Linked DNA regions of Homo sapiens. The protein of the gene in region 1 interacts with the protein of each later gene in a pairwise test. Each region holds a gene or a part of one and is shown on either strand. Other genes may lie near its edges.

Region 1 (16,549 bases):
AACATCTAAATATATGTTCTGACAGTCACCTGAAAGCATGCCATTTCAGAGCCAGGATCATGTGACTGTGCCTCCTTGACATCTTTTCTTCACTTTAGGAGTGTTAGCCTCCTTGCTGGTTGATTTCTGAGACAGGCCCCACATAGGGTGGGGCTCAGGCAGGCAGAAGAGAGAGAGAGATTATGGAAATAGCATTGGCCTGCTGGCTCAAAACCATATACCTGAGCCCCAAACCAATCCTCCCAGCCTGAGTATATCTCCCTCACCGTGGCCCAGAATGTGTAACCTGACTTCTCTTTCCTCTCCTCCTCTGTCAGAAGGGCCTGATTCAAGATGTCCTGCCCTACAAATCCCCACAATCGACAGAATTATAGAATGTTGGGGCTAGAGTGGAGTTTAGGAGCCACGAAGTTTACCCGCTCTCTTTGTAGATTGGTGCAAGGGACGGAGGAAGGCACTTGTCTAACATGAAGCTAGTTAGTGACACAACTAGATCAGGAACCCAGCTGGCCTGACTTTCGTGCCCTGTGATGGGAATGGATGCTGTTAAAATACCTATCCAGAGAAGGATCTGCTTGTCACAGAGAAATCTCGAGGCGGCAGCCTGGCACTGCCACTGAGTGTCCAGCTCTGGATTGCAGTTGCCTTGTCTGCCTGTTGCCAGCTGGGTGGCCTCATGGAACTTCAGTTACCTCATCTGAAAAAGAAGGGTGATGGTGCCCACCTCATAGGGTCATTGTAAGGATTTAAATGATGTGGTTCGTGTACAGGGCTCAGAACAATGCCTGGTTGGTAGGCATGGTGTTTGGAGGAGCATAGTAAATGCTATTGCTATCAATATGTCAAAATAATGTCAATATTAACATAGTAGAGAAGTAGCTAGAAAAACTGAACTTCATACCTGGAAACAATTTTAAAGATAATCAGTTCTGCTTCCACGGACTTGCCTTTTATAGGAAGATGAGCTACTCTAATCCCCTCCTTCAGGGCCCTTCTATATCCTAGAATAGGAAAATTATCGTTATTTAAAGATGTAATTAACATTTATTATGGCTAGCATATTAGGTTTTAGATAGGCCAAATGTGTGATACAATAGAATTGTATTTTTATATGCTGCTGTGTATACTTTACAGTACATTGGGGCCCTTATATAATCGGTGTGCACTGTACTTTAATGTCCATTTTATAGGACTTTTATAAGGGAAGCTGGATGATGTGGTGGAATGAGCACTGTGCCAGGAGTCACAAGGCCTGGTTAGGATGCAGGCTTTGCCACATATTAACTGGGGCATTGCAAGCAAGCTACCTCCTCTCCTAATCAGTGAAATGCAGTGCTTGGCTGGATGAAGTCCAAGGCTCTGTCCAGTCCTGGCGGTCTATGGCTAGAGGCAGAATCTTACAATATGAAGTGATAATAGAGGTTTACAGGTATTTTGTACACATCTATGACATATTTTTTATCACATCTCTGGTTTACTTGAGGTTAAGTTCTTAGGAACAGCGCCCTCAATAATAAAACTGTTTCTATTGGAAACTATAATCTGCTTTACAATAATCTGCTCTGCAAATTGCTACTAGGAATACCTTCCTTGGGAAAGCTGGGGCTCCCCGCATGTAACACCCACATCTCAGGAGTTGCGTGAGTGACCTTCATGTACATGGTCCCTGAGACAGTCATTCAGTCTTCTTGATCCTTCCTCGACATAAAATTCCCAAAAAGAATAGATTTCTGATTGTCCTTTCCTCTGTAGATTAGAAGAGCAAACTAAAAGTAAAATATGTGAGCTGTGAGCGGCAGCCTCAAATGACAGCAAGAGTGACGGCTGTGATAGTGTCACACACTGGTGGAGGCCCCAAAACTAAGAAACTGACCGGACAGCACGACTACACAGTTCAGTAATGGATGTCCAGAATGAGAAACCCAGGGCATCAAGAAGTACAGCAAATATGTTCAGTGTTGTTTGCTTTAGGAGGCAAACAGAATGCGATACCTTTTAGAAAGATTTCCATCAAAGTAAATACTTAAAAAAAAAAAAAAACACTCAGCTCCTGTTACACACCAAATTCACTGATGTGGGCTCCCTCCACGCCTGGAGAGGATGCTACATGAATAAAGCTTCACTGCACATGTGTCCCCAGGGGTGAGTGTATATAGGGGAATGCACACAGTGGTCCCAGAATAATAAGTCCAGAGTGAAATTTCAGGGTAAAGCAGCTTTTCAATTTTTCAGTGAGGATCTGGTTAGGATCCGAGTTAGATTTAATTTACCTTAAATTAACTAGCATTCACGTATTCACCTATTTAAAATATTTTTTATTAAGCGCCTAATATTATGTGTGCCAGGCATTGTTTTAGAGGTTATAGTGGAGTTTCAGAGAGGATCCGCTGTTCACGTGGTGTTTTACCGGGGTATACTCATGAACAACAAATAACCACCGGTTTTACCAAGGCATACCCACTGTGTGGTCTGATATCCCAAGTCTGCTCCTTGATGTGGCCTTACTGCCCCTACCCCACTTTCTTCAGAGGAAGCTCCTTTAGAGTAGACTGGGTTACCCCCATAAGATGGAGCACTCCTTTGGAGCAAGAGCTATGGTTCTGCCATCAGCCCGGGAGCCTCCACCGCCGGGGTTGGTCTCTGCTATGACCTCAGTACAGAGGGAGATGGACGCCTGGCTCTCCTGGGCAGCCTGGTCAAGAAAGACTCCTTTCTTTCCTAGAGAGAGGTCTCCCTCGGTTCCTGAGCTGAGCACATGCTTTCTCAGTGAGCCGGCAGAACAGGACAGAGGGGCGTCTCCCTGGGGCCTCAAGGCTTGCGACGTTTCTTGCTCATGGGGAGAGGGAAGGGAGAGAAAAAAAAGAGCGAGCAGGAAGGCGCCCAGCGTCCCACACAGGGGACTCGCAGCCCTGCCCCCAAGAGCGCTGGCTCCGCAGCAGCAGTGCCCTGCAGCTCCGCGTCTGAGCAGCAGCAGCGCGCGGCCCGGTGGAGTGGGTGGTGCAGGGCAGGGGTGGTATATCCTGTCTGACGGAGGGCGGGCCTCGCCAGTGCCAGAGAGGGACGAACCAGGGTGGAAGCGCCAGGAGCAGCTGCAGGGAGCCCTCACGCGGACCACGCACTCTATGGCCGTAGGGAGCCGCTGAGAGCGAGAAGAGCACGCTCCTGCCCGCCCGCTGCACCGCACCTCGCCTCGCCTCTCTGCTCTCCTAGGCCCCGGCCGCGCGCCACCCGCCTCCCGCCACCATGAACCACTCGCCGCTCAAGACCGCCTTGGCGTACGAATGCTTCCAGGACCAGGACAACTCCACGTTGGCTTTGCCGTCGGACCAAAAGATGAAAACAGGCACGTCTGGCAGGCAGCGCGTGCAGGAGCAGGTGATGATGACCGTCAAGCGGCAGAAGTCCAAGTCTTCCCAGTCGTCCACCCTGAGCCACTCCAATCGAGGTAAAGGCTCGGCCCCCGCGTGGTCCGTGCGCCCCTTTCCAGAGCACCCTGGCCCAGTGGCGGGGACCAAGAGACGCACGCATCCCCGGGGATGAGGGGAGGCGAGGGGCTGCCGGCCCCAGGCAGGGTCTACGCACCTAGTGCGAGCAGCCGAGCTCCCAGCCGGTTCTGAGCTGGTGTAAACGCGACCCGAGGCTGGCTCGACGGCCCCGCGAGCTCGATGGCGCGCTAGTGGGCAAGGATGGGTGATTCACCGGGACACAGCCAGGAGCATGTCCCAGCGTGCCAGGAGGTTGAGGATCCCCCGCGAGCGGTTCTCCTGTCCCTGAGCCCTGGGTCTGGACGGCTTTCTCTTTCGGATGCTGCTCTAGGGATCTGCCCTGCATCCTGTCTGGCCCCGGCTGTCCTGGGGCCCATGGTCCCCGCGCTCGCAAACGGTTGTGGGCCACCCTTCACCCTTCCTGGGCTTGATCTCCTGGCCTTCAGCTGGAGGCCGATGCCCAGCGTCCAGGCCAAGGGGAACCCCAGTCCCTGTGGGGCCGCGCATGAGTATCCGCGAGCGGGGTGAGGGAGTCGCTGAGACAGGAGTGCAGCTCAGGAGAGGCGCTGCGGGACGGGAAAGTGGCACAGGGAGCAGGGACGAGGGCCTGGAACTCCAGGGCACTTTATCGAGAGCCTCCTGAAAGAGGCTAGCCTAGTTGGAAGGCCGCCCCAGGGCCAGTGGGTCCCTTGACGACAGGGAAGGGGGTCAGGGATGCTTTCTTTCCCGAATAGCCAATGCAGAAATCCTCTTTCCCACTGGATTCTTCTTACCCCACCCAGCTTAGGTAGAAACAAGTGTCTCATGGGGAGAGTACGGAATGGCAGGTTGGAAATCCCCCCGGGCCCCAGGGAGACCTCCAGCTGAACCCTCACGGGCACTTTTCCAAGCTGGATCCCGGGCCTGGCACCCCCTCCTCCAGCCTCTGAGAGGCCAGATCCCATGACTGGGGGAACCTGGGAGAAAGGGGCAGCACCCAGGAAACTCAAGGAGGAAGGGGCAGTACCTGACAGGGGAGAGCTTATAGACCAAGTAAACACTTTGATACAAAGGATGCCTGGTAAGAATTACACACAAGTGAGCAAAGATTCCACTTGTTTATTTATTTACTTATTTTATTTAGCTAAGTTTAGTAAAATGCTAATAAGACTTTACCCATTACCAAACAGTACAGGTCAACCAAGACTTATGTATTAAGACAGGCCTTAGGAGAGAGTGAGGGGCAGGGGGTAATAAGGTGGAAGGAGACAAAAGAAACCGACCCTGGCCCTTCCACCACACACACACACACACACACACACACACACACACACACACACACCTCACACTTCCTTCTACCTGTGGCTTCTGTCCCCCCACCTACTCCCTAGCCCCCATTCCTGAGTGGCCCCTTGTAGAGCCGAGGGAAGGAAAATGGCCGGCAGAGGACTTCCTGGGCCCCAGACCTAAAGGCCTTTGCTTCTCTGTGTGCTCTTTGCCTTTGTGTGGGCTCCAGGCTCCTCTCGTCACATTTCCACTCAAGATCATGCCACCTCCAGAGCACTTGCCTCCTTCCCTTTTATTTGGTGCCTTGGTAGGTGCCTCCTAGCCTCTTTAGAATTAGGTTTGGAATAACAAAGTGCCCCCATTTCTGGCTACAGCCCAGAGCACAGCTCAACCTACTCTCCTCTCTGCACAAGACTTGGCTGTCCCCTTCCCACTCCCACTCCATCCCAGCCTGAGCTCTTGGCTCACAACTCCAGAAAACTCAAACCGGCCCTGGGTGCCCCAAGGACCCCTTTTTCCTCCTACCTATCGGGATATTGGCTGAGTGTCTGTCAGCAAGAAGTGCACTTTCTGGGCTTGGTCTTTGTGGGGAACTTCTATCTGATAAGGTCTCCTTTGTTCCCTCTTTGTTTTTCCTCCCAAGGTCCCCCAGGGGGCTTCACTGGGGGAGGGTTGATGCTGATGGCTACCTCTCCAGAAACTCCAAGGTCTAGCCCTGTGGGCGTGTCCCCTCTACCCTCAGACTCTGCGGAGGTTCCTAAAGGAGGCTGCAGAGGCATCCTTGCTGGAAGAGGCGGTTTGGTCACTTGGAGCTGGTGTTTCTGGTTTATCTGGCTTAGTTTTCATCAGATTTCCTTGTCTTCTCCATCAGAAACACCCAAACGTCCCCTATTTGCTCTGCGGCCACCTCTACTCACTCTGCTCCCTCTTTCTTATGCTGGTTTACCTGTCAGGAGCCTGCTTTGGTTCCTGGAATGGAATGAGCTGGTAGCTGTGGAAGGACCATGCCCCAGGCGTTTTCCCTCGCCCCCTGGACAGATTCAGGTTCTTGTTTAGTCTCTTCCAAGAGCAGAGTCAGTTTACCTAGGGTCTTCTTGAGCCCCTTGAATCCCATCCAAAGTTTCCCTAGTTAAGAAGGGCCAACCATACCCCACAGGTTGCCTGGAAGAGTAGCCACTGCTCCTTGTACCCCAGGAAGGACAGTCAGGACCAGCCATCCTTGGTCCTGTGATAGAAGTGGCTTCTCAGTTCCTCTCCACTAGTGCTCTTTTCTCTCTTGTCACTGAGGGAGTATTGAGCCACTGAGGACTGGAGGAAGGGCCCCTGGAGCCTGTCACAAAATGCCTGTCTGCACTCATGCTCTCCCTGAAATGCCACAGATCAGACAAGCACCTTGCCCTGGTCATGAAGGCCCCGGGCAGGAAGAAGGTGGCTTCTGTGGCCTGGAGACCTTGCAGAAGGAGGTTGCTCTGAACCTGCCTACCCATCTTGAACTGCCCCTGAAGTATTGCTCCCCTGTGTTTTCAGGCTGTCCCTGTGTGCCTCAGGGTGTCTGGCCTCCTTTTCTTCCCAGACTGTGTGGAAGGCAAGGGGAAACTGAGGGGGATGTCACCACCCAGCAAAAGATCTTTGCCAGGGAAATGACCTCCCTGAGGATGGGGAAGGAAACACTTATCCACCTTCCAGATCTTTATAACTTCACTTGGAATCTCTTCCTAAAGCTGAACCTGAATCTCACTTGCCCTAACCCAAGCGCTCCCCCGCCACTGTGAATACAGATCACACCCAGCTCAGTGAAAGGAGCTTCCTTTCACCTGTCCTGTCTCCTTCCAGGGAAGTCCTAACAACACCAGCACCATTGCCTGCTTTGTCTCACTGCCTGCTTAGCCATCTGTGATTTTTTATTTCAGCCTTTGGCCTGAAATTCTCTTTCTCCCTTCTTCATAGAAGTACTGTTTCCCATCTAAAATTGCTAAGCCTCTATTTCTCTCTGATCAGAGGTAGGGGCTGGAGGCAACATTGAGCCAGGGGAGGTGCCTGCTCCCTTTCTGTAGTTCCTGTGTCTATTCAGCCCTCATCAGGGGAGAGGGGGGCATGCTTGTACGAACTCCGCAGCCTGCACAGTGAAGGAGCTCGCCTCAGGAGCCCCCACTTTGATGGCTTTTTGTATTTGTGTTTGACTATGTCTCAGCATGAGCTTCTGCCCGAGTGTTCTGCTCATTAGAGTTTCTAGAAAGTTGTCCTTTCCTGACCACAGGCATCACTTCTGGGGTTGTTTTCTTGGGACCGAAGCTGAGATTGCAGATGGTAATGGCTATGTGTGCTTTAGCTTGTTCCATTGGCGAAACATACCAATTAAACTTCAAATGAACCAATTCTTGTTTCTTTACAATGTACCTTGGCTTGAAGTTGGAGTTTTAGCCAGAATTTCCGTTGGCCTGTTACAACACATGCAAAAATGCTGGGTATTCTAGGGTGTTTTGCAGCAAATGCTGCTTCTCTGGATCCTGCTCCTTGACAGAGATTTTTTAAAAGTACAAATTCCTCCCCCGACCCCATACCATTGTAAGTATCATTGTGCCAATTGTTCTAGGTTTAGAAATCTGGGAAGCGCTTCTGCGATGGGCCGTGACCCTTACAAGATGTGTAATGTTTGAACAAAATAAAATGGACGAATGTTAGATATCTTCATGTGAAGTTCCTTCTAGGCATACGCTGGACACATGCGCACACATGTATACACACATAGGTCACACATGCATATATGCATGTATACACAATACACCCCACACATGAATCCACACACCCACACATGCACACACGTACACACACATAACATGCACACACTTATGTTATGTGTGTGTACATGTGTGTCCTTGCAGCTGTGCTGTGTCAGGAGCCCAGCCTGGCATCTACCTGGTGTGCGATCTTGGACAAGTCGCTGCCTCTCTTTGGGTCTCTGCAGCTGTCAGAGGTTGGATTAGATCATCTCCAAAGTGCTTTGCAATGGGAACACTCTTTGGAAATAGATTTTATAACTCTCTAGCTCTGCAAACCATTTGCCCAGACCGCCAGCAGCTGTTCTGCCAAAAAGCTCTTCCCCTTAAGGCATGCCACTCATCGTGTCTCTCTCGTAAACATCCTAACATATTAAAAAGTCTTCTCATCCACTCTTCTCAAACTTGGCTACATATTGGAATCACCTGGAAATTTCAAACAACACAAATGCGTGAGTCCCACCCCCAGAGATTCTGACTTAGTGAGTATGAAAGATGGCACGGGCATCAGGACTTCAGAAACTCCCAGGTGATTCTCATGTGTAGCCAAGTTGGAGAACCACTGTTCTAGTCCCTGTCCTTCACTCACACAGATCCAGCATGGGGGAGCACCCCTATACAATGACATACACCCATGTCTTTCTCTCATACACACACACACACGCACACTTAATGTAGTAGTTGCTGGCGAGAGCCTTTGACTCTGAACCCCACCTGAACCCGTCAACCCTTGCCCACTCTAACCCACCACCCTGCCCCCTCACGCCCATCCTGTCCCCACAGGATGCTCCCATGCTCTGCCCAGTCCTCAGGCTTGGTGGTGGCCATGAACAGATCTGCTGAAAGAGCAGCAGGATTGTGGCAGAGCTAGGTCTGAACGCGTCCCAGCAGAGCCTGAGGGAGTCACATGGGCTGGAGAGGGAGAAGAGAGAACACAGGCCACAGCAACCCAGTTTGTTTCAGCATTTCTGTTCAGTACGTACACCCAGGAAAAGGTCAAGAGCCACACCAAAGTGCCCGGTGAGGCTGTGCTGAACTCCTTGCCCTCCCCATCTCCTAGAAGCTGCCGAGTTGGGGAGGCATGTCCACGGTGCTCCCAGCAGCCCAGCAGAGGGGGCAGGAGGCTGGCCAGCCCAGTCCTCCCTCCAGGAGCTGGAACCATCCCGCAGACACAGTCCACTCCTGCCCACTCCGAAACACCTCTGAGGGTATTCTCTCAGCAGTAGCTTCCTGGCAGTTCTTGTTATCTCATTTAAATTCCTATTGCTGTGGGCCTAGCTTTTCTGGGCACCATGGGTGAAAGAGATTTCAGAGGGTGAAGTAAAGGCATTTTCAAGACTAAAAGAAAATGAGCTTCCTTTCTCAAGCTTTTCATGCTGAAGGACAGGTGGGCTTTATTCAAAAGTAGAATATGCTAGAAGAAGCATCGGCCTTAAGGGAGACAGAGTAAGCAAGAATGTGTTCCGAGCAGCTTGCCCTGTGACGAAGGAGAAGGATTTGAGGGGAGGGAAAGTGGAAAAAGCGGATTTCCCTATGACCTCTGTCTGCAGGAAGGCTGATGTCCTGAGAGCCTTCTCTATGTAGAACCTGGGCCTGGGATTGGGGGTGTGGAGTGTGGATCTACCAAAGGTGAAGATTCCTTGCTTCAGGGAGCTCCCAGCTTGGTTGGGGAGACCCAGGCCCTACCTTCTGGGAGGAGTGCACACACACACACACACACACACACACACACACACACAGTGTACAGAAGCCACATTCCAAGGAGCCCACAAGCCAGTGCAGAGTCAGCCGCTGGATTGAGTGCTGACATGGTTATGCTGGCAAGTTTGGAGTGCTCAGAGCTGGGTGCGGTCATCTTTAGGAGAAGCTGATTTTTGTGCAAGGTTTTGAATGCAGGGGGAGGGTTGGAGAAGAAGAGAAAGAATGTTTCAGGTGCAGTAAGTGTGACCTATTTGAAAGCTTGGAGGTGGAAGAGGATGAGTCATCCCTGCAAAGGCTCACCTGCCCCTACTGGAGAGAGATTTCCACTCATCCTAAAGAAGGAGCTGCCTCCAGTTTCAAAGGTTTTGAGGCGAGAAAGCTTGAGTTGCACCGATGACACAAGAAAGAATCAGCCTGTCGTTGTCTAAGGCACCAAAGGGAAGCAGTGTGCCAGGACACTGGTGACCTGAGCGGTAGATTTTCTGAGATGGTTTTACACCCTAAAACGCGGATGTAAAATCAGACGAGCTATGTGGACAGAGCAGGTTGTGTTGCTTGTATACCTGGGAAAGTGGCAGATGCTCTGAGGCACTTGCTCCTTGACCTTGGGGTTCTGTGGGTGGGCAGATGCTTCCTGAGGATGGCACACAGGTTGGGCACACTGTCAGTGTCACCGAGAAGCCACCACATCCCTGCTCATGCTGCATGCACCCATATGGGGAGAAGAGGGGCAAAGCAGATGCTTAGCTGGAGGGTAGGAGTGATTCTGTGGGGTGAGCTGGGAACTAGCCCCTCCCCCATTCCCCAGGAACTAAGAATCCTCCTCAAGGAGGTGGCCTTGGGTATTTGAGAGCTGCAGCAGCCCTCCTCTCTTCCTGGTTTACCCCACTCACCAGGGACCTCTTTGAGTGGGAGGAGAGCCTGACCCCATTCTAAGCCTCTAAGCACCAGGCATCAGAGCACGTTCACCACAAGGGTTGGGCAAGGGAGAAGAGGTCATTGACGCAAAGAGCCAGCTCAAGCCAGTCAGGCCCAGACCCAGCTGGGGCAATGCCCTGAACTCAAGGTCCCAGGGAAAGAAAGACATGGTTCGCACTTCAGAGAGTGTCCAAAGTACATGGTGGTGGAGACTTGTACGGGCGTGAGATGGAGATGGGAGTAGGCGTCATTCATCAGGAAAGGCTTCCTAGAAGTGCATTCTAGAGACATCGGGGACCAAGTGGAAGAGTGAGCTAGCACCATTACACTCATTAGAAGCCCATGCTCTTGCTATTGAACTTGACTTTTAGAGGGCATTACTTACCAGTCAGACACCCCAGGGTCAAGAGAGGGAAAATCACTTTTGTTGTGGGAGCAGTGCTCTTACAGACAGAGCACACCTGCCCCCAGTACTCCTTGGTTATCTGGCACACTGCGAGCTGTGATTTCAGGTGTGTGACAACTATGGACTTTTCCCCTCTCTCACCACCTCCGCCCCAAATACTGTCACCTTCTGCCAGATTAGCAGTGCAGGCAGGTGTGATGTTACCCTCATTCTCACCAGAGCCAAGCAGACCCCAACTACAGATAGGTCTTAGGAGATGCCTTCAGGAACTGCCTGGAAGGGCCTGCAGGCCACAAGTGAGTGACAGTCACACCTGCCTTTACCAGAGTTCATGCTGGACATGGGGACTGGCTTTGGGAACTGCAGGGCATTCTGGCCTCTCCCTCCATGTGTCTGTGTGTCCACTGCCACCTCCATGGCAGAGAGGCCTCTACCTTCATACAGAGAAGAGTGTATGAGAGGGAGGCAGGCAGGTGCAGGGTGTGGCGGGAGGAGATGGTTAGTCTGATGACCCATGGGGAGAGCAGCATCATGCTGACAGGTTCTCTCCCAGAAGACGGGCAAGAAGGCCCTGGTGCAAGCCCCCCGGGGCTGCTTCTCATAGCAGGAGGCCTCCCCGGTGCTCCATAAAGTTCTGTCTGTCACCACCCCAAATTTTCCACCCAGAAGCAGCTGACTGACCCACACCTGACCTTTGGTGAGAAATACCTGCTCACAGGGCCAGATCCAAATGAACTCTATCCTATCAAACCTTGGAAGAATGATCAAAGTGGGCTGGGTGGAAGGGAGGCAGACAAGACCTGGTGGTTGGCCACCTAGGGTCCTGACTATGAGTGTGCCTGGCTGCAGCCCCCTTCCTTGGGAGCACCAGTCCTGAGTGACTGAGCCCATGAGATTGCCTCCAGCCTCTTCCTGATAAGGACAGTCTTGCCAGAGGAGCGGTTGCTGGAGAAAGGTGGAGGAAGAGCTGTGTGCACTCTACAGGGAGCTTGGAGGAAGCCAGAGGTTCAATGGGCCACATGGCAGAGTCCCAGGATGTTGCTCATAGGCGGATGGCCCTTCTGGAGTCAGGGCTAGGCCTGGAGTATAGGGGAGGCCTCTCAGAGGACCCTGAGGCAGGTGGCAAACGAGGCGGTAGTGTGGCCTTTGATGTCTGCCCTTCTTCCTTGTAAGCTGAGCTGTGTCTCTGGAGAGGAGGAGTCGGCTCCTCTGAACGCAGTCAGGCACGTGTCACTATCATCACACCACCACAGGGCAGTGGAACTGTACGGGGCCTATGGGAGGTAAGAGGCCAACCCTCTCTTTTGACAGAAGAGGACACTGAGGCTCAGAGAGAGCAAGTGACTTGCCCAGGTGCCAGAACCAGGACAAATATCAACACCGCTAGGCCCCCAGGGCAAGCTGTGTCTGCCACAGCTTGAGACCCCTAATGTCCATGATGGAAGGGTGCAGAGAGTTGGGCAGCACTCTCTGCTGTGGGCTATGGGTGGTGACCTGGCGCTGGACAGGGGAGGTGGCACGAGGTGGGGATCCCTGCCTCATTCCAAAGCTGCCCCTTGGCTATTCCCTCTACTCCCAGCTCAGATATTCCAGCCCTGCTCCCCCAGGCAATGGCCGGGGAGCCTAAGTGGGTGTGGCAGATGGGGAGGAGCTACCTTGGCTGGGTGAGATCACTGCCCAACTCTCTTCCCCACAGACAGGGTTTCCGATGGGGGAGTCTGACCATCGCTTTAGAGAAAAGGAGTGCATATCCCTCTTAGGAGGCTCTCACTGGATCCCACTCACCTTCATCCCCCAAGGCCATCACTTAACAAGAGTGTGGGCCAGGCCACGGAGCCATGGCTTGCTCTTCGTGGAGCTCCCAGTATAGCTGAGGGAATGGGACGCAGGGCAGAATGAGACTTGGGCTACCAAGAGCAGGACAGTATGTGTTTAGAGGCAGGAGAGATTGCCTTGTGCAGAACTGATCAGAAAGGGCTTCCTGGAGTGGGTGAGGTCTTGAGCTTGGCTTCAAAAGATGAGCAAGATTAGAAGGTAGTGGCCAAGGAGGGAAGGCAGGTTTGGCATGGAGGGAGATGTGAGTAAAGTGGTGAGCCTGTCACCATTGGCCATATTTCAAGGACAGCAGGACAGTGAACAGACCAGCTTGTGCAGAGTTGATGCTATCCCTTAGGGTGTCCCTGCTGGCCAGTGAAAGGGAGATGAGGGGGGTGGCCCCACTAGGAGCCCCAAATCCAGTTCTGTTTTCTGTGATGCAAAGCCACTTTGCCACTAATAACCCTAATGACACTCTGTCCTCCTGCGGAGCCTGTCATTTGTGGGTCTCCAAGCACTCCGAAAACATTAATTAATCCTCACTGGGCCTTTGAGGTTGATCGCCGCTCCCCCTTCACCAGCCAGAGCATGTTAGAGGTGAAAGAATGGGAGGAAGTTTGGTCACTGGTAGGGGCTGGGCTGAGATTTGAATCCAGAGTCCTGTCCTGAATCAATCTCTAATCAGCTGTTGCTGCTGGACTGGGAATGTCGGAATCCTGCCTGTCTCCCCTGAGTGGGAATCTTATCCTTGTGGAACATGGAGTGATGATTCCCTGGGCTGGAATGGCCGTGCTCCAAGGCCCTCCAGACCAAGTCCTGACCTGTAGGTGTTAACCTACCCAAGCAGCAGTGGAGCCACTGGGCTCCCAGGAAGGGGACAGATGAGAGTTTTAGAGCTGTCCCTGCAGGAGTCTGTGGTAGCCCTTCCCTTGGTCCCGGCTGTGGAGGATGTGGAGATAGATGGAGATGACATTCCCCACCTTCTCCTCCAGGAGCTCAGACCTGGTCTCCTCCATGGGCATAGTGGACCTGGATGCAGAAGTGATGCCCTGAGGAACAGGGGTGGATGAAGATCATGGCCATCCCTGTCCTAATCCCCTCCTTTCTCCTCTAGGTTCCATGTATGATGGCTTGGCTGACAATTACAACTATGGGACCACCAGCAGGAGCAGCTACTACTCCAAGTTCCAGGCAGGGAATGGCTCATGGGGATATCCGGTAAGGAACTGCTTCCATCCTAAAAGACCTGGAGTACTTGTGGGGATGGTTTGAGGTTTATAGTGGAGAAAACCGGCACCAGTTGCTAAAAAGAGTGATGTAGGCTTTGGTCCGTGAGTTGAGGCTCATCAACTCTGACTAGGTCTGTTGACTTGGCCATTGTTTCATAGGTGGCTCTCGTTTGGGCTGACTGGATATTTTTGAATGTCTCAAATGATAATATTTTAGGAAAAGCATTTTTAAAAGGCATTTAAAAACAAGTCCATTTCCCAGTAGGTCTGATTTGATCATGGATTTGGGAAATGTTTGCATTCTTGAGGTCTATTAATGGACCAGTTTAGATGTTTCTAGGAAAATCCTAAAGGGTCATCTCTGTTCGTTCTGTGCCTATGGTCAAAGAGCCAAGAGAACATGTCCACTGCATTGACTCCTGCATATGACACTGCATGCTAGAGTGGAGCCTCCCTGACAACCCGACACATTTGGGTTCAAATTTTAACTCTGCTACTCACTGAGATGTGGCTTTGGGCAAGTTACTTCAAACTTTGGGACTCAGCTTCTTCACATGGAAAGTGGATATAACAAAGAACTTCTGGGGTCATTTTCAGGATTAAATGAACTAATGTACATGAAAAAAGATTACAATAATTCTTAAGATTATTTGTTAAATTAACATGGATAGAGGTTATTTTAGATCCTGTAATCCTGGCTCTGTCTGCTTTCTAAGTGATCTCAATCCACTATACTTCATCTATCCATTTACTGAACAAATATTTATTGAGCCCTAATTCTGTGACAAGCACTGCAGTAGATGCTCAGGATACAACCACACCAGCCAGTGCAGGAATTTTCTGCTGCTCTAAAGTCAGGAGTACCGGGCTAGATGACACCCAAGGTTTCTCCTAGCCTCCAAATTCTATGACTTTCATTTACTTTCGCTGATGCAACATTAGCCTGCATTATTCTTGGGAATTCTTTTGTAAGGCCCTCAAGACATTGTCAGATGGGGATTAAAGGCTGCTTCTCTGTGGGAATCTGGGGTTCTGTCTTGGTGGGGCCTTAGGATGAAGCAGCATTTGCTTTAAGACACAGATGTCTCACAGATATCACTCCTGATTGACTGTCAAAGGTCCTGGGTCCTGGGGAGAGGAGAGGGTGAGGAGTTTATAAGTTTGGTGTTCTTTTGTCATTTGCTTGATTCTTCCATTCCTGAGTTCTTTTGGGGGCTAATTTTGGAGGCTATGTCTTTCTTACATATTACAGCTTGGGGATGAAAGGAGACAATTAACTAGATTTGCTGTGAATTTACTTCCCTCGCTTTTTTCCTGATTCTTGATGGCAAATGACACTCTTAGTGCAAAATAAACCCAGCACACTGAGCCCGGTAAACTGACAGATCAAGCACAGATGTGAATAAAAGGGCTTTTACACAAAGGGTGATGACCAAATTGAGAAAATGGCTTAGGAATGCAGCATAAAGGGATTAGATGAAACCCAAGGAAGGCAGATCACTGCACCAGCAGCCGGAATGGATGATTATGCTGACAGTACAGATGGTACGTGTCTTTACTTAAATGACATTACCAGTTCAGAGCTTAGGAGGCTTAGGTTCTAGTCCTAGTTCTGCCCCTCTCTGGCTCTGTGACTTTAGATAGTTTAATTTCTCTGGGCCTCAGTTTTCTCATCCATAAAAAGGGAATGATGATACTCGTGTGTCTACTTCACTCACGGGTTGATATCAGATGACATTAACTGTGAAGTATTATCAAATGGGTAATGTAACCATGGAAATTTGTAACCAAGAACTGTAAAGGAACTCTTTCGGGGAAGGTGTTTCTAAAGAAAAAAAAAAAATCTTCATTTGGCCCATGTTGAACATTTCACTTCTGGTTAATTAACTCAGTCCTCAGTCATCTCACTAGCTTTTAATGCTCCCAAACTGTCCTCACCCCTCCCTGTGCCCATTTCCTGACAACCAGTGAAAATCTCTTTCCTTCTCCCCACCCTAAGACCCAACCCTCCTTACTCCCTCGCTGGCAGGACTGCAGACATGACTCATGGCAGGGTAGCTGCTGAGGCACGTCCCATCTCCTTTCAGTTCAGGAGAGGCTGTGGGAAGAGGGAAGAACTGAGCACACATGAAGATTTGGCAGAGGGAGGAGGCCAAGTAGGGAGGAAGTGGAATAATTGATATTGGAGCCAGACATATAATCAGATGAAACCTGGGCAAAACCAAACGAGGTCCAGACATAAGGAGAAGGAGAGCAGGCGAAAAGGCAATAGAGATCTGTGGCATGAGATAATCCTATGTCCGTGGGATTTTCCCATGGATGGTACAACTGGCACAGGACGATGTTATTCCTCCCCTCTGGTGAAACCAATATGGCAGCAGAAGGCAGGGAGGGTGGGGAGGAGGGTGTAGTTTGTCTGCACAAGCATCATCAGCATATTTTCAGGAGCTTCTGAGAGCTGATGAAGGATCATTTGCTGCAGATACTTTATATTCACTCGGTCAGCCAACTTGTATTGAGCAATTGCTGGGGCACAGCAGTGAGTGAGGTGCGCTACAGAAACACAGTTGAAAAGAATCTGACTTTGCCCTCAATGAACCTGCAGTCAAGTTAGAAGCACAGAGGTCAACAGACAAATAAGATAAAGGCATTAGTTTCTGTACTGGAGCATAACACCAATACTGCCATTGCTCAGAATGTTTCTAGAACCCCTAAAAGTTCAGAACTGTCTTCAGCATCATTTCAGGAGCCAGACAAGAAAACCAGTCTCATTTCTTTATTGTCATGACCTGGGTTTGACCAGAAACAATATTACTCACTTGGAGCACCTCACTCCTCAGATCTGGCTCTAGTTCTAAATATCAAACCATTCTCAAATAGCAAAGCTTTGTCACCTCCTATACATATCTCATTTAAATATGTAAAGGATCTGTAGGCAATTCCAAAAAGAAG
Region 2 (16,876 bases), on another chromosome or scaffold:
TTGAAGGAAATGTTGTGTTTGTTTAGGCTTTCTCATGTAGGGCAAGACACCTGTTAAGTTTCATGGCTCAGACAGATGACTTGAAGTTGATTTATGGTGTTTTTCTTAATCAGCTCTAAAACTAACATCATTTTCATTGTGTTTTCCTTTTTCTAGCCACACAGAGCTGCTTTAATCATGTAAATCTTGCTCTCTGCCTTCTTTGTGCAGTGTTTGTTGCTCTACCAACATGGGATGCCTTTTTCTCCTTCCTTCTTGCTTGACAAATTCCTGCACATCACTTCATATGTCAAATTTCTGAAAAGATCTCCCTGCCCTGTCTCCTCTGAGTTGTCTAATTGTCACTCCAATCTGCTGCCCTCATACCCTGAACTTACTGTGATAATGTCACTTTTCACGTTTATTTGAGCATATCCTGATGCAGTGCATAACACATAATAGCCACTCAATAAAACCAGTTGAATTAATTCATTCTTCCATCCTCCTTCATCTTCTCCATTTTTTTCATGCCTTCTCTCTCTTTTTCTTCTCTTTTATTCATTTGTTATATTTTAATCAAGCATATTATTTAAAATGTATAACCTCGGGTGTTTTCCATTAACTAGCTTATTATCACTACATTCTCTAATTTTGTGTCACAACATTAAAAAATCTTCAGTGTTGTGATTTTAACTGTTCTATTTGTTCAGTGACATGTGTACAACTATTTATCTTAAAAAATAGAACTATAAAATGCTTTACATTTTGTTTGTTTTTAGTGGTACAAGCCAACTATTCTTCAAACTATATCAGATATCTCCATTTTCTAGTACACCCTAGTAAACAGAGTATTTTCTAGCCTACTCAAGAACCAACGTAAGTTGTAGACGCCTCATTTCTGTGACTTGGTTCCTTCCCCCTGTAATTCTCTCACTAGCCTTGGGTTGGTGGTCTCCTTCCTCTCTCTCTCTCTCTCTCTCTTTCTCTCTGTGTACACACACACATACAAATACGTTTTTTTGCAACATAGGGAAAAATAAAAACAAAACAAATACTGAAATTTACATGAAAATTACTCTCAAGTCCAAGCACAATAAAATAAAAGAAAATAAAACGTCATAAGAAACACCTTATAGATCCTTTCTACTTTCTTTTTTCTTTTAACACAGGGTCTCGTTCTTTTGCCCAGGCTGGAGTGGAGGGCATAATCGCTGCTCACTGCAGCCTTGACCTCCTGGGTTCAATTGATCCTTTTCTTTTCTTTTCTTTTCTTTTTTTTTTGAGACGGAGTCTCACTCTGTCGCCCAGGCTGGAGTGCAGTGGTGCCATCTCCGCTCACTGCAACCTCTGCCTCCCCGGTTCACGCCATTCTCCTGCCTCAGCCTCCCGAGTAGCTGGGACTACAGGCGCCCGTCACCACGCCCGGCTAATTTTTTGTTTTTAGTAGAGATGGGGTTTCACAGTATTAGCCAGGATGGTCTCGATCTCCTGACCTCGTGATCTGCCCGCCTCTGCCTCCCAAAGTGCTGGGATTACAGGCGTGAGCCACTGAGCCTGGCAATTATTTATTTATTCAGTTTTGCCCAGGTTGGCCTCGAACGCATAGCCTCTCCTCCTTGCACGCCAGGGCAACCGGCCAGAGCCACCGCAGCTCCCAGTCGATCCTCTTATCTCAGCCTCCTGGGTAGCTGGGATTACAGGCGTGCACCACCATGACCGGCTAACATTTATATTTTTTTGGTGAGACAGGGTTTCCCTATGTTGTCCAGACTAGTGTCAAACTCCTGAGCTCTAGTGATCCGCCCACCCTGGCCTCCCAAAGTGTTGGGATTACAGGTGTGAGCTACCACGCCCAGCCTACTTTCTAGCTTTGGCCAATATCCTGTCTTAAGTTGTTCATGGTGTGAATCTGTACATGCTTCTCCCTCACTAGGAAAACTTTATATCCTAATTACAAGTAATGACAACAACCTAATCTCCACCCTCCTTCCCTTCCATTAGAAAAATCTATAGGATATAGTGGTAAAGAAATACATTCCTTAAAAATTAAATTATTTCATCTAAGATAACACCACCAGAGCTTTGATGAAACGTACTATAACGTACCTTTCAGAATAGTAGCAAAATAGGAAGAGATTCAACATAGTAGCTTACGTTAAACTGAGGTAAAGCTCAGTTTTTCATTGTACCTGAGACCTTTGATTTGTCTTAGGTGAAAGACAAGCTTGCAGGCACTCACAAACATCTCCAAGGTACAGGAAATAATTCTCAGAAATATTCTAGTTTAAATTTCTCTGTGGAAAAGGAAACTTTTACCAAAAGACAGCACAATCTGTCATCTTCTCTATCCACATCCCTACAGGAGAAAGTGTTTTATTTGATCACGTAAAATAGTTTCAGTCTTCCATTTTCATCTTTCTAATTTTTCAGTACATAGAAATAGCAGCAGTTTATAGTGATCATTGGAAAGATCAGCAATTTAATCCTTCATCTTCACCCTTAGACCCACAAAGCAGCATCTGAGCCATTGAGTTTATGGTTTGTTTGTTCGATTAACCTTAGGTAAGATAAATTCTTAAGGGCATTTTATGAAACACTATTCAGAAACCAATCAATAGAGATTCATTTTTGTTACGTCCAAAACAAGGTGCAGAAACCTTGAGGATTTGGTTTTATATTTAGTTCAATAGCAAAGAAATAGAAATGGTTTCTTTGAGTATGCACCACATTTGCTATACAAGTAACAACACCTGCATTTCAATCTAGCCAACAAATCAATTTATAATGCTCTGGGTGAGTTTTGTGGTTGTTAGTTCCAAAAATGCCAATAGTTTCTCAGGAAAGATTAGGTTTTCAACCAACTTATAAAACAAAAATTCGATTTCACTGTCATCGGATTCAATCACAAACATATAATAAAAGGCTAGGTATTAAAAGGAGTAACAACTTTCTGATCTCAAAGGAAACCCCATTTAAGAGAGAGATTTACTTGTTAACTTCTTTGGTTTATTTTAAATGTTATAATTTTCTCATAGTTCCAAATACCTGCTGAGGTATTAAAAGTGCATAGAGGCCAGGTGCTGTGGCTCACACCTGTAATCCCAGCACTTTGGTAGGCCGAAGCCTGGAACACCTGAGGTCAGGAGCTTGAGACCAGCCTGGCCAACATGGTGAAACTCCATCTCTACTAAAAATACAAAAATTAGCTGGGCGTGGTGGTGGACGCCTGTAATCCCAGCTACTGGGGAGGCTGAGGCAGGAGAATCGCTTGAACTCGGGTGGGGATGGGGTCGGAAGTTACAGTGAGCCAAGATCCCGCCACTTCGCTCCAGCCTGGGCCAAAGAGTGAAACTCTGTCTCTCAAAAAAAAAAAAAGTGCATATGCATCATAAGAGAAAATGCAACTGCTTGGAAGTCATGAAAAAGTACTCAACATCATGAATAGGCAAATAATTCAAATTCAAATCATGTCTATAATTTCTTTCTCATCAACACAGCAAGATTTTAAAAAATTAAATGACTATATTCAATTCTTACTAGGATATTTACTGTTATATTGACAGTAAGAAGGTATATTGGTATTCTGCTTTGGAGATGCAGGTTAGCTTTATATACCAAAAACCATTATGTTTCTTATATTTTGACCTAGAACTTCTGTTTGTGGGTCTACATCTCAAGAAATAATCCTGAGTTCAGAAAAAAGATTTATGTATTAGGGTGGTCTTTATAATAATGAAAAATTGAAAACAACTTAAATGTTCAATGTTAGGAACTGGTTAAATCAGTTGTGATATAGTTATTTGAAGGAACTGATTACAGTCATTAACATGGTAGCTATATAGAGTTGTCATGACATAGGACAGATTTTATAACTAGGAGAAAGCATGCTACAAAATTACATTCATAGTGCAAGTATAATAATGTTAAAAATTCTATACACAGAAACCGGACTGGAAACATGTATATTAAAAAGATTATCTTTAGTGAGTATATATTACCATGCTTAAAATCAACATTTAATAATGTGATTCTTAATGTATAAGTAATTGATAGTAAGATTCCATCCACATTAAAAAATACTTTTCAAACGTGTAACTTTGAAGACCACCAAAGGAAATAATAATTGGAGAAAATAGCAATAAATAAAAAAAAATCTAAAGTATTTGTTATATTCATTTCACCAGGATTTTAATCCTGAACATCATAGAAACTACTTTAACTAATTTTCAAACCGTACAGTAAAGTGTAAGCTCCATGAAGGGAGATATCATGTCTTCTTCAATTCTGTATAATCAGCACCACTGGTAATACTCAGCATACAGGAGGTGCTAATACATAAGTGATGAATAACTAACTAGTATTATTGAAATAACAATTTGAAACAGTAAGTTTAGTGGACATCTGTTGATTTGCTTGTCTAGTTACTTTTTATCCTTTTTTTCTGTCTAGCCTAGTGTTATCTTTGGGCAGTCACTTCTTCACCACTTTTTGCCCATGTGGTCAGGTCCACCACTTGACTTTAGGTTTATGTAAAAGATTCAGGCCAGAAGGATTGTGTTTTGCTCAAACTATTGGGAACAAGACATATTCTTTCAACAATGACTTGCTAAACCATTCATTGTTGAAATCCTGGAGGTTCTGGTGGTGATCTTTGCCTCCACACTGGGCAAAACTGAAATAATGAAACCAACACAAAAAAAGGCGGAGCTAAGAGATGGAGAGAATTTATGCTTAAATCTGAGTTAGGCTACCCCCAGCCTTCCAGTTACATGACCTAGCAAATCCTTTTGTCCTCAATAATTTTGTTTTGTTTTCTCTTAAGCCAGTTTGAGTTAGGTATGTGGGCTGAATAGAAAGAGTTCTGAACTACCCAGAGATGTGTGCTAATGTTTCTTTTCATAGGTTTGACAACAGTTTTGATAATAATGGGGAGTGATTATTTTATATAAAATTAATCACTATTCTACGCAAACAGCCTTAGGAAATCATTGTTAGTAATTATTAGTGCACATGAGTTACTTCTAAGTTTTAATAGCCCTTTACCCAGGCAAAAGACTGTGAGTCTAGTGAGATTGAAGGAGTTTCCACTGCAGTACACTGAACTCATGGGAGCCAAGCTTTTTTTTTTTTTTTTTTTAATAGCTAACAGTTCTTTTTCTTTGTTCATACACTTCACCCATACTAAACTCACAAACCCTTTTTTTACACCTGTAGTTTTTGGTATATTTAGTCATTCATATTTAACCCAAAGTGCCTTGTAATGGCTTCATCAATGTGTACAGCATTCCTACCAGTCTAGGAGTCTTTTAGAATAAATTAGGTCATCTTACAGAGATAATGGTTCTCTCTGTAAATGGCTTTTTTGAGGCCCTGAATTTATTCATAATGAGCCCTTTCTGTAAGTTGGTCATAAAAAAAATCTCTAATGAAATTTGTCACTGTATTTCCATAAAATATATTATTTAAATTTATAAAAAGGTGTTTTTCCTTGATGTGCCTTAAGGTTAAAAAAAAAAAAACTAAAGAAATACAAGAGTCATGTGGATCTTTACATTTAAATCTTTCTCTGTATGACCATAAATGTGTGGTAGAAAACAGATTATGCAATACTTATGTATTTAAAATAAAATATTTTCTTCTATAGGGGTTTCTCAACATTTAATCATTGTTCTTAATTTCTCTTTAAATGGCTAATATATTTAATATTTGCTGCAGTGCCTCTTTTTATCTTATCTTTTGAACTGGAAAGATAACTGCATGTTCTTCACCATAAAGTGTGCCTTTATTTTAACGTCATAAGATTTCTGTCTTCTTTTTTTCACCCTATATGATGCTTTTCTCCTAGCAAAGGCCAGAGCCCAGTATGTAACCCCTTAACTACTTGTTCAATGAATAAACCTATTCATGTATCTTTAGGTAGCCTCTACATAACAGACCTTGGATTTGCAATAACTTTGTGTTTGTTTCATTTGAAGTTCAGTCTCTTCAACTTTTTATTGCATGCCTAGGCAATTATATGGTGTAAAATATTAGTGCTTGCTCTGAGCCAGACACTGTTGGAAGTATTTTCTTTATAATATCACATTTAATCTTCATAACAACCTATGAATTAGCCACTATTATTGTCCCCATGTTATAAAGAGACCGAGGCACAGAAGAGTTAACTAACTTGCCTAGGGGTTATACTGCGAATAAGTAGTAAAGAGAGGATTTGCACCCAGGCAGTCTAGCTTCTAAGTCCAAGTTGTTAACCACTAACAATCTTTTGCTTAAGCTTATTAATTTAGACATAGGTTAAAACAAACAAACATACAGATAGAAATAAAAATAAAATAGAGCTTGCAGTGGTTTGAATGTCCCTGCCAAAAGTCATGTTGAAATTTTGTTGCCGTTGTAATGGTGTTAGGAGGTGGGACCTTTAAAAGTTGATTATGCCATGAAGTCCCCACCCTCGGGAGTGGGTTAGTTATCATCAGAGTGGACTTCTGATAACTGGATAAGTTAGGCCACTTCCCTGTCTGTCTTGTGCACTGGCTTCTGTCTTCTGCCTTCCATCATGGGATGACCCTCATCAGATGCCCATGCCATGCTCTTGGACTTTCCAGGCTCCTGAACCATGAACCAAACAAATTTCTGTTTTTGTTTTGTTTTGTTTTTTAATAAATTACCCAGGCTATGGTATTTCTTTACAGCAGCAGAAAACAGACTAAGACAGAGCTCTTACTGAATGATCTAATGCCAGAAAATTGGAAGAAATATGTCTTGTTTTCATTTAATTTTAAGGTAGATTCACGTTTAAGGAAGAGTCAATAATTTGTAATAATAAATTATTTTTTCCTATAAAGTGCCTATATTTTATTTTTAGGAAACCTTTGTGTGCAAATACAAAATATGGGAGAAATAGTAATGTAACAGATTTGCAAACCAATAATTTGGGGTTAGCTTTTACACAAGTTTTTCTATTACCTTTGAGAAAGATAGATAATGGGAAAAGAGAGCACGCAGAAAGTAGGCCAAAAGAAGTAGGATCAGAACATCAACTTCCCAGAACTGTGGAGAGTATTCTGGATTCATTTGAATTGAGCAGTGCCTGGAATCTCTTCATCCAACCAATATATGCCATTTTTTCAGTAACACCAATTTAATTTTGCTCTTCTATATCTTCCTAGTTCAGTGGAGAATATCATGTTATAGAAAAAGGTAATGATAACTTCATTAGCTGAAAAAAATGTGTTTCTATTTTCTAGGGTTGGAGAATTTGTCTTTGAATTATTTAAGCTGTATGACTATCTATTTATCTGTCTATCTATCTATCTAAATATATACTTAGATGATGCTTAAACATGCACAGAATTACACTTGGCTGTACACATATACATCTAAGTAATTTTTCTATTTCTATATTCCCATTCTTTTCTCCCAAAACGCCAGATATAAAAATATTCCATTAAAATGACTGTATTTTCTGATTGAGAAATCAAATTCCAATGCAGTCACAAAATATGTTTATTAGTGGGTATACCACTAGCAATAAAATACTACAAGATATCTTTTAGTTTTTTTTCTCCTGGGTCATTCATTTTCCAAATCTTCCTAGCTTCTAATTCTAATGAAGCAGTTACATTTATTTCTGTCTCTACATACAAGGAGAAATTGTTCCCATTGTCAAATAAGCTGAAGAAAACCTTTCTTTCCTCCCTTCTCAGCAGCATGGGTGTTGGGCTCTACCTTAACATTTGAAAATATTTATCCTTCTGTCCTAACTTCCATCACTGCCATTGAGTGCAATTGGTATCACTGAGCTCACTAATTTGGGACAGGAATAATGATGCTAAAGCTCTTGTTAGAGGAATCATTAGGGTTTAAAAAAATCTACACTTGATGGCCTGATTGTACTATTAAGCTAGGATATCCTATGTGTAATGTACAAGTAATTAGGGTGAATAGAGTGATTTTAGAGAGACTTGCTCTCAAAGATTGTAGTTGTCCTTGAAAAAATATAAAGGTAAAAAGCAGTGGCATCTTGTACAACAAAAGGAAAGCCACAAGAAAGATTATATGCTAGCTATTTCTTTATTCTCTTTCTTTTATGAAGTCTTTACATTCTGATAAGTTTCCTGTGACATCTAGAGAACCAACCACAGTGAATAGTCAATAACAGGAAGTAGATACCATGCCTTTATGAAGTTGCTGCTTTAAACTGGAATGCCAGTTCTCTAGCAGAACTACAGTGTTCTACAGGACCGATGACACTTAAATGCTTAGATGGGAGATAACTTCTGATGAGTGTGATTACACACGCTTAGGTCCTCTGATTTGCCAATGGCAGTTGAGGAGGCATCACTTCCTTGCATGGCGTTTGTGCACAATTTATGTTTGTACCCGAGGGCAAGACAGGTTAATAAGGCCAAGAAGGAGGGGAGGCTGTGGGAGTGGGTAATAACTGGGGAGGACTTCACAGCATCAACCTGGGGGAAAGGGAGGAGGGCTGAGGATGAAGGGTGTTCCCTCCTCCTTCTGCCTATGTGTTAAGTGGCAAGAGAAATTTTGAAAGCTGCTGTGAGGAGGAGCTACTGACTGGGTTTTGGGGTGTTTTGTACCCCACCCTCCTCACTTGTAGGAAAGCCTCTTTGCATTTAGACGTAATTGAACTGGAAGGAAGGAGACTGGCCAGGGAATAGGGGGAAAGAAATTCTCCCGTTGCTCCTCCTACTGTTTATCACTTGCCTCCGGACTGTCTTCCAAACCAAGCTCAGCTGCATCAAGGTGGCAGCAGAATACCCTGTGCAAGTGCCAGCGTCTTCTTAGCCGCTCTGTGCATCCCAGGCTGCCCTGTTATCTGGCCACCGTCCCTGGCCATTGGGACTGCTTCTGATGGCTCTGGCCTCTGCTGCCCCAGGGAGCATCTTCTGTAAGCAGCTCCTTTTCTCTCTCCTGGTGAGTAACAACCAAAGGATTAGGGAATTCAAGCATGTTACTACCTGCTTCCTCTCTGCAGTTTGGGCTTGAAAGAGACTAGGAGTGAGGATGGGAGGCAGAGAAGAGAGATTGGGGAAAACAAAAGCAGATCTGAGGAAGATTCAGGGAAGAGTTGAGAGGCTTGGGATTCAGGATGGAAAGTGTTCAGCTTACTTCTCAAGCACCCACTGCCAGAGTGTTAAAAGTTTTCAAGGGAATCCCTCTTCCATCCTGCTGTGGTGATTTTCTAAGAGTAGAGAAGTGAATTCATTCTTTAGGCATTTGGCCCAGAAGTTTCTGAGGTTTACTTCTGCTACCAGTGATTACATAAACTCATGTTATTTAACATGCTGAGTTCTACTAAGCTGCAAAAAAAGAGAAAGGATTCTGGGTGAACATGCAAATTATCCAGGACTTTTTGAATTTTACCCACGAAGCAGTTTAAGCAAAGAATAGTTTAAGAAAAATAACAAAAATGTGACTGTCATTGAAAATATCCTCAACTTGGCTTCCACTTGGGTTTTTAATAGCTTTGTAACTGTGTAAGGTGCTATTTTTTCTTTGGAGGTGAGGGAAGAGAGGGGGGTTATTTCACACATCCGTCCATCATTTCTGAGGTGTGAGTTTCCTATTTTTTCATTTTAGCAAAATACTTGAGTTTCAAAATATATTTTTAGAAATGGCAGGTATGAGGACAAACATTTTCTCCATGTAAATAATATACAATGCAGGGTTGATGGTCACCTTCTCATCCTGTAACTGCTTAGGGAGACGATAACTCAGATACCATCTTAAGTTAGTACAAGTTTGGTAAAATGTGGTAAAAATGTTTCAAAGGATTCTACCCACATTTCTTTTGCTTCTGATCCCTGTACTGTCTAATATCTCTTGGACAATTCATCTCCTGTTTATTTATTTCTGACTCTGAAACTGACTAAAAGGGTGTCACTAAGCCACTTAGTCAGTGATTTAACCTGAAGACGGGAATAGTATTTAATGAATGGAAACCTTCAGTGGCTCTGCCTGCAGAGGGAGGACCATCAACATGGAATCCTAGGACAAGAAGGAAAGAAGATGGGGGTGGGAGTGGAAGTGTGGATATAACTATAAGAATGTCTCATATATTTATATATATATATGTACATTTATATATATATACACACACGCACATATACAGTCATGCTCTGCAAAACAATGCCTCAGTCAATGATGGACTACATATATGAGTGGTCCCATAGATTATAATGGAGCTCGTCTGTATAGGTGAACCATTTTTTATCTTTTATATTGTATTTTAATGTACTTTTTCTATATCTAAAAATGTTTAGTTACACAAATACTTACAATTGCCTACAGTATTCAGTAGAGGAACATGCTGTACAGGTTTGTAGCTTACAATAAGCTATACTATATACTATACACCTAGGCTGTACCATGGTGCATACCATGGGGCATACATATATAAATCATGGTGTATACCATGTAGGTATAACCCAGGTGTGTAGTAGACTATATCCTCTAAGTGTATGTAAGTATACTCTATGATGTCTGCACAAGGATGAAATCACCTAACGTTGCATTTCTTAGAATGTAAGCAATATATGACTGTGTGTATATATATACACACATACACATACATATATAGGTATAGGTATATGTACAGGTATATGCATATGTATGTGTACATATGTATATGTATGTGTTTATGCATAGCCTAATTACAATATGCTGTTTCCACATTGTATACTTAGACAACTATTAACAGTATGGTCTATGCTTAGAAAGTTCTTTAAGTATAATTTATTATGTTCCTTGGCATTAGGGATGAACATATTTAAAAAGTTAAATAAATACGAATGTCTCACGTTTTAAAAAGTGGTTTTTAAATTAGGACTAAATAAAAATGTGGCCTTTTAATTCCAGATTTCTGCCTAACATAGATTTTTGTAAAATTACAAACTATTTAATTAGACTGCTACAGTATATCTGGTAGACTTGAGATGAGCTGGAAAAGAAGTGCACATCCTTAATATGGATGTTAATCCATTCTCTTTCCTCCTCGCAAGTAATGGGTCCCGTAACTCTAGAATTCAGAGAAAAGCTGAAAGCTGATCATAAAATTGACCTACATGTTTCTGGAAAACCTAGCTCTACTCTATCTTATATTTAAATAATAAAAAAGCAGTTATTTTGATAAAGAGGAACAAACAGAAAATGCCAAGAAAAAGAAGTAAAATATATTTTGAACCTATAGACATTTTTGAAATGATAGCTTTTCTTTTGTTTTTTTCAGATAGTGTCTATGTCTTTGAACTACCTAGGTTTTAAAAACAATAGCTGGGCCTTGAATTTAATTAAAAATCTTCACCCATCTGAAGGATACTCTCCATATTTTGACATATATTTCTTTTTAGATTAGTCATGTGATTTGAGATCATTTAGATTTTGGCGTTTTGGCCAAGTCAGTCACAAAATTGATTTGAGAACAATGATTTTTTGGGGGCATTATTTTTCTGTGAGGTTAAAAAAGCCCTTAACTATTTTCTAGACTTCATCAACTATAACTTCAAATAGTAAAATGATGATTAGAGAATTAGGGCATATATGTAATTATGCATTTCAAAGGTAAGTATTTTCTTCATGCTAAAAATCAGAATGGCATTTATGAATGGTCTTAGAGACGTATAACTTCTATATAAAGTCAATGGTTTGTGAAATATTTTCTTGCATTGACACAATATGATTTAGGTTCTAAGAACTACTATTCACTTAATTTTTTTCATTGACAAATAAATGACAGTGCTATTCCTAAAGCTATTCTCTTTGCTGGTTCCTTTTAAAGTGAGTATTAAAAATGTAAAGAATTAAATGATTAATTTGTTTCCAAAATTGACAATATTTTTATCAATAAGAAAAAGCTACAATGTGAAAATTTGTGATCAAATTTAATTCCTGATATTTTTTCTTTTTTTTTTTTTGAGGTTTTAACATTACTTTGCGATGCTTGTCAGAAAGTTTATCTTCGAGTTCCTTCTCATCTTCAGGCTGAAACACTTGTAGGCAAAGGTGAGAAACACTATTAACAGTTTCATAGCTGTAACTTGTCACATTTAGCTGCAGGCTGCTCTTGTAAAGTTTGGGATAAAAACCACATAGTAGGCCGGGCGCGGTGGCTCACGCCTGTAATCCCAGCACTTTGGGAGGCCGAGGCGGGTGGATCATGAGGTCAGGAGATCGAGACCATCCTGGCTAACAAGGTGAAACCCCGTCTCTACTAAAAATACAAAAAATTAGCCGGGCGCGGTGGCGGGCGCCTGTAGTCCCAGCTACTCGGGAGGCTGAGGCAGGAGAATGGCGTGAACCCAAGAGGCGGAGCTTGCAGTGAGCCGAGATTGCGCCACTGCAGTCCGCAGTCCGGCCTGGGCGACAGAGCAAGACTCTGTCTCAAAAAAAAAAAAAAAAACCACATAGTAGCTACTTGAAGTTAAAATCGGATGTACAATAAAAGACAGGCTACTTGTTTTTTGGTAGTGGTTAGAAATAATTAAAATACCAAAGTTAGTTGTATACTTCTCTTGCCAAAAAAATTAGCAAACATCAGAAGGCTCAATTATCTTGGATTACGTCAAACAAAGCAAGGCACCAAAACCAGGAGCATATTCTAATTTGTATAAACTAATCTGCTGCCAAAATTTCAAAGCCAAGATTCTTCAATTGATTAGACATGAAATGGATGTCTCAAAATCTAAATGCCCCCAATAAAATTTGTACTTGAGGTTGATTACAATGAACAAGTATCCACCAAGAATAAATGTGACATATTTCACAGAACAGCTTGTGAAAATCAAATACAGTTTTGGTGGGTCTTAGTACCATAGCCATCTCTGAAGTATAAGTTGGTTGTTCTGAGCCCAAACGTAAAATTTTTTTCATCAAGGTTTTTCACTGGCTTTGCATTCACATGTAAAAAATTACAAACAATACAGAAATGGTATCCTTTCCAAGCCAGATGTTGTTTTGCCCAGTGCTTTAAGGTTTGAAATTAATAAACAGTCCACACTCTAAAGACACATAGTAAATACACTAAATGTGTTAAATATGAATCTGTAAAGGAGGTAATTTGATAATAACCACAGCGCATCGGGTTTACTAAACCTTGAAAGATATTACAGAAAGATTATTTGCAATATTACTGGGAAATATTACTTAAGAATAGACTGGTTTTCTTCTTATTTATTTATTTAGAGACAAAGTCTTGCTCTGTTGCCCAGGCTGAAGTGCAGTGGTGCTATCTCTGCTCACTGCAACCTTCACCTCCCAGGTTCAAGCAATTCTCCTGACTAAGCCTCCTGAGTCGCTGGAATTACAGGTGCACGCCACCATGCTTGGCTAATTTTTGTATTTTTAGTAGAGATGGAGTTTCACCATATTGGCCAGGCTGATCTAGAACTCCCGACCTTGTGATCCTCCCACCTCGGCCTCCCAAACTGCTGGGATTACAGGTGTGAGCCACTTAGTTTTCTTATTTTTGGCAAGATAGTTTTAAGTATCAAACTACTGCAAAAAGTTCAAAACCTACTGACATCATACGGTTATACCACTTATGACATAAAAAATCAAGTTTGTATACACATATATAAATTTATACACACACAATAATTAAGAGTTCAAAGAAAAGAGAATAAAATCAGTGACACTAGGAAAATATTTTATTTCTCAAATTAATGTATGACGAAGGTAGTGGAAAATGTGACTCCATTAATATAATTATTTAATTTTCATGGCCCCCACGTTTTAGAATAGCAGGTGCTGAGCACATTCCAAATGTAACCTCCCTTTTTCTGCTTCTCATGCATTAACTCACGGCTGTCATTCCTGTAAAACTTGTTCCACTCCTGTTTCATCTGACAAACTGCTGTGATATTTCTTCCCTGCAGTGAATCTGGAGGAGTGTCTCAAGTCGGCCAGCCTAATCCGGTCCAGTGACCCTGCCTTCAGAATTCTAGAAGATGGCTCAATTTACACAACACATGACCTCATTTTGTCTTCTGAAAGGAAAAGTTTTTCCATTTTCCTTTCAGATGGTCAGAGACGGGAACAACAAGAGATAAAAGTTGTACTGTCAGCAAGAGAAAACAAGGTATAAGGCAAGGGCTTAAGCAGCCTAGCACAGTAATATGCTTACGGGAGTCCTTCGTGTTTCATGTGTTTTAACGTGTTTCATGTTAAAATCTATGCTATTGAATGACAAATTTGTCTTTTCCACTTACAATTAGTGTAAATAAAGACTAGACTTTTAAGGAGTGGCAGAGCCATTTACAAACTTTTATAAAGATGAATGACTCTGTAGACCAGGAGCAAAGTAAGAATATCAGAGTTTTCTAATAGTGATTTCAAGTTTGGGAATAAGAACAAACCAACCTGAGGAGCAAGGACAAGACAGGGGCGGGTCTAAAACTCAGCGAAATGTGATTCAGGCTGGAGATGTGGGCTCCACCCTGTGCGGCTCTCTTCCCACTGATTGCGGGTTTGAGTCTCTCTTTAAAGAGGAGAAGAGACTGTTTAAAGCTTACTCCCATCTTACTAGAATATTCTATAGGGCAGGCCCTCTCTTCAGAGAGTGGAGGTGTGGCCAATCCACAGAATTGATTTGAATGTTTAACTCTAGGCTCATTTTCTTGCACTGAGCGGTAGAGATCAGTTCAGAAAGCAGGGAGGAAAAAGTTGCTGGAATTCACATCTCATTTTCAGCAAATTCACCACAATGAATTTCGTCTTATAAAACCATTTCTTAATAAATGATTCTATTTAGGAGAGGATTTCCCAACTAAATTCTTTTTGATTGTATGAACTCCTCTTAATATGCTTAAGACTTTAAAAATGTTATTTTATATCCACATTGTAAAATCCCCACATTATATAAAATCAAGTATACTTGAGCAAATGCTGACCTGTGTCTACATAGATGTATAAATGATTGTATTGTGGAGTGAGGGTTTTAACAGATTTTGGTTGTGCCAGTCCTAGTGGAATAAAGTTGATCCTTAAATATTTATTAATGAATTATCTATTTTAGGGGGAGTTTATACTTTCTCAAAGTGGCATCTTTCCAAATGCCCTATACATTTCCTGGTGGTTAACTGAGTAAATAGAGAAATAGGTAGAACGGGGGAACATAATGTAGTCTGAGGTGTGTGTGTGTGTTTTATCAATAGAAATGCTTTGCTGACTAGCCATGATATTGTAATGTGTAACCCTTACATCTGCTTGTTGATGTATGTGTAAAATAATCACAGTTCCAAAAAATGATAAGCAATGCTACATTTCTTTGTTTCTTGTCAAATGTAGTCTCCTAAGAAGAGACATACCAAAGACACAGCCCTCAAGCGCAGCAAGAGACGATGGGCTCCTATTCCAGCTTCATTGATGGAGAACTCGTTGGGTCCATTTCCACAACACGTTCAGCAGGTGCATTTCACTTATTTGATTTTATATGTGTCCAAATTTTTTTTTGTTCTTAAACTTTTCATTTGAATTGCACAGCATATTGAATCAGAGGTTTAAACTAATGGTACAAATAATGATCATCTATTCACCAGAACTAGGGTCCCATAGAAGTGACCCAGTATATCTTATTACTTTCTTACAGATATCATATTTAGAAATTTAGAAACAAGTTTTATATTTGGAGTTTCTGGTGCTCTTAGGTCTATGTCTAAATTCACCCAAATACTATGCTAGACTTGTTAACACTAATGTACAGAAGGCACACCTACATGTTTTGCATAGTTCAATTCTTGCTTAAACTAACACTCATCTTTTATAAAAATGACCTGTATTTCTGCTTACCAAGTAAGATTGCCTCACTGCCACATAGCTGGATTGCAAACATAGAACAGTTTTGAAATTTTGGAGTATAGTGGCATCAGCTCAGCTCACCGCAACCTCTGCCTCCTGGGTTCAAGCGATTCTCCTGCCTCAACCTCCCGAGTTGCTGGGATTACGGACACCCACCACGAAGCCCAGCTAATTTTTGTATTTTTAGTAGAGGCAAGGTTTCGCCATGTTGACCAGTTTGGTCTTGAACTCCTGATCTCAGGTGATTCACCTGCCTAGGCCTCCCAAAGTGCTGGGATTACAGGTGTGAGCCACTGCGCCCGGCCAAAATTTTCTAATTCTTGAGGAATTAATTGTGGAAGAAAAGTTGCTTTACTTCTAGTTTTATTATCACATAATTTTCAATTCCAAAGAATTCAAAATCACGGAAACTGTTACTATTATTTATATGAAGATAAGAATAAATAGATAAAACTTGAAAAGTGTATTACTCTACATGTTTTATAGATATACAAATGACAAAAAAGTTGAGATCAAATAAGTGACAGAATTTGTGGCTTTGCACAATGCAAAATGCAAATAAAAATTCGGAAAACATGGCAGATAATGGGCACCTAAGCAGAAGAAAGAAAGAATAGGAGAGTAGGAAAGAGGGGTAGTGGTAAAAAAATAAACCATCACAAGAGGTTAGGTTGAAAATATTCATCATGACGTATTTGTTCTATTCCTAAATTATTACTGCAGATCCAATCTGATGCTGCACAGAATTACACCATCTTTTATTCCATAAGTGGGCCAGGCGTGGACAAAGAACCCTTCAATTTGTTTTACATAGAGAAAGACACTGGGGATATCTTTTGTACAAGGAGCATTGACCGTGAGAAATATGAACAGTTTGCGGTAGGATTATTGAAATATTTATTCATAATTATATCTTTATTACTGGCTTACTAATATTTTCAACTATGCTTGTTTACATATTATAAGAATCAATTATTTGATTTAATATTCAAGATATTAATATGCAATATAAACTTTAAATTTCTATTCACCATTGATGGGGAAAAACAGTGGATATAATAAGGGAAGTGGCGGGGGAGGT

Evidence for each region.
Region 2: the proteins of PKP1 (region 1) and DSC1 interact in a two-hybrid assay, tested with the Homo sapiens proteins (one study listed by BioGRID).

What each region holds. Positions count from the first base shown.
Region 1 is NC_000001.11:201,280,460-201,297,008, forward strand, and holds the start of PKP1 (plakophilin-1), read left to right. Parts: upstream 1-3,046; 5' UTR 3,047-3,243; coding exon 3,244-3,445; intron 3,446-13,482; coding exon 13,483-13,586; intron 13,587-16,549. UniProt on the Homo sapiens protein: A component of desmosome cell-cell junctions which are required for positive regulation of cellular adhesion.
Region 2 is NC_000018.10:31,154,572-31,171,447, reverse strand, and holds the start of DSC1 (desmocollin-1 isoform Dsc1a preproprotein), read left to right. Parts: upstream 1-8,591; 5' UTR 8,592-8,853; coding exon 8,854-8,916; intron 8,917-11,918; coding exon 11,919-12,003; intron 12,004-13,874; coding exon 13,875-14,077; intron 14,078-15,285; coding exon 15,286-15,405; intron 15,406-16,518; coding exon 16,519-16,674; intron 16,675-16,876. UniProt on the Homo sapiens protein: A component of desmosome cell-cell junctions which are required for positive regulation of cellular adhesion.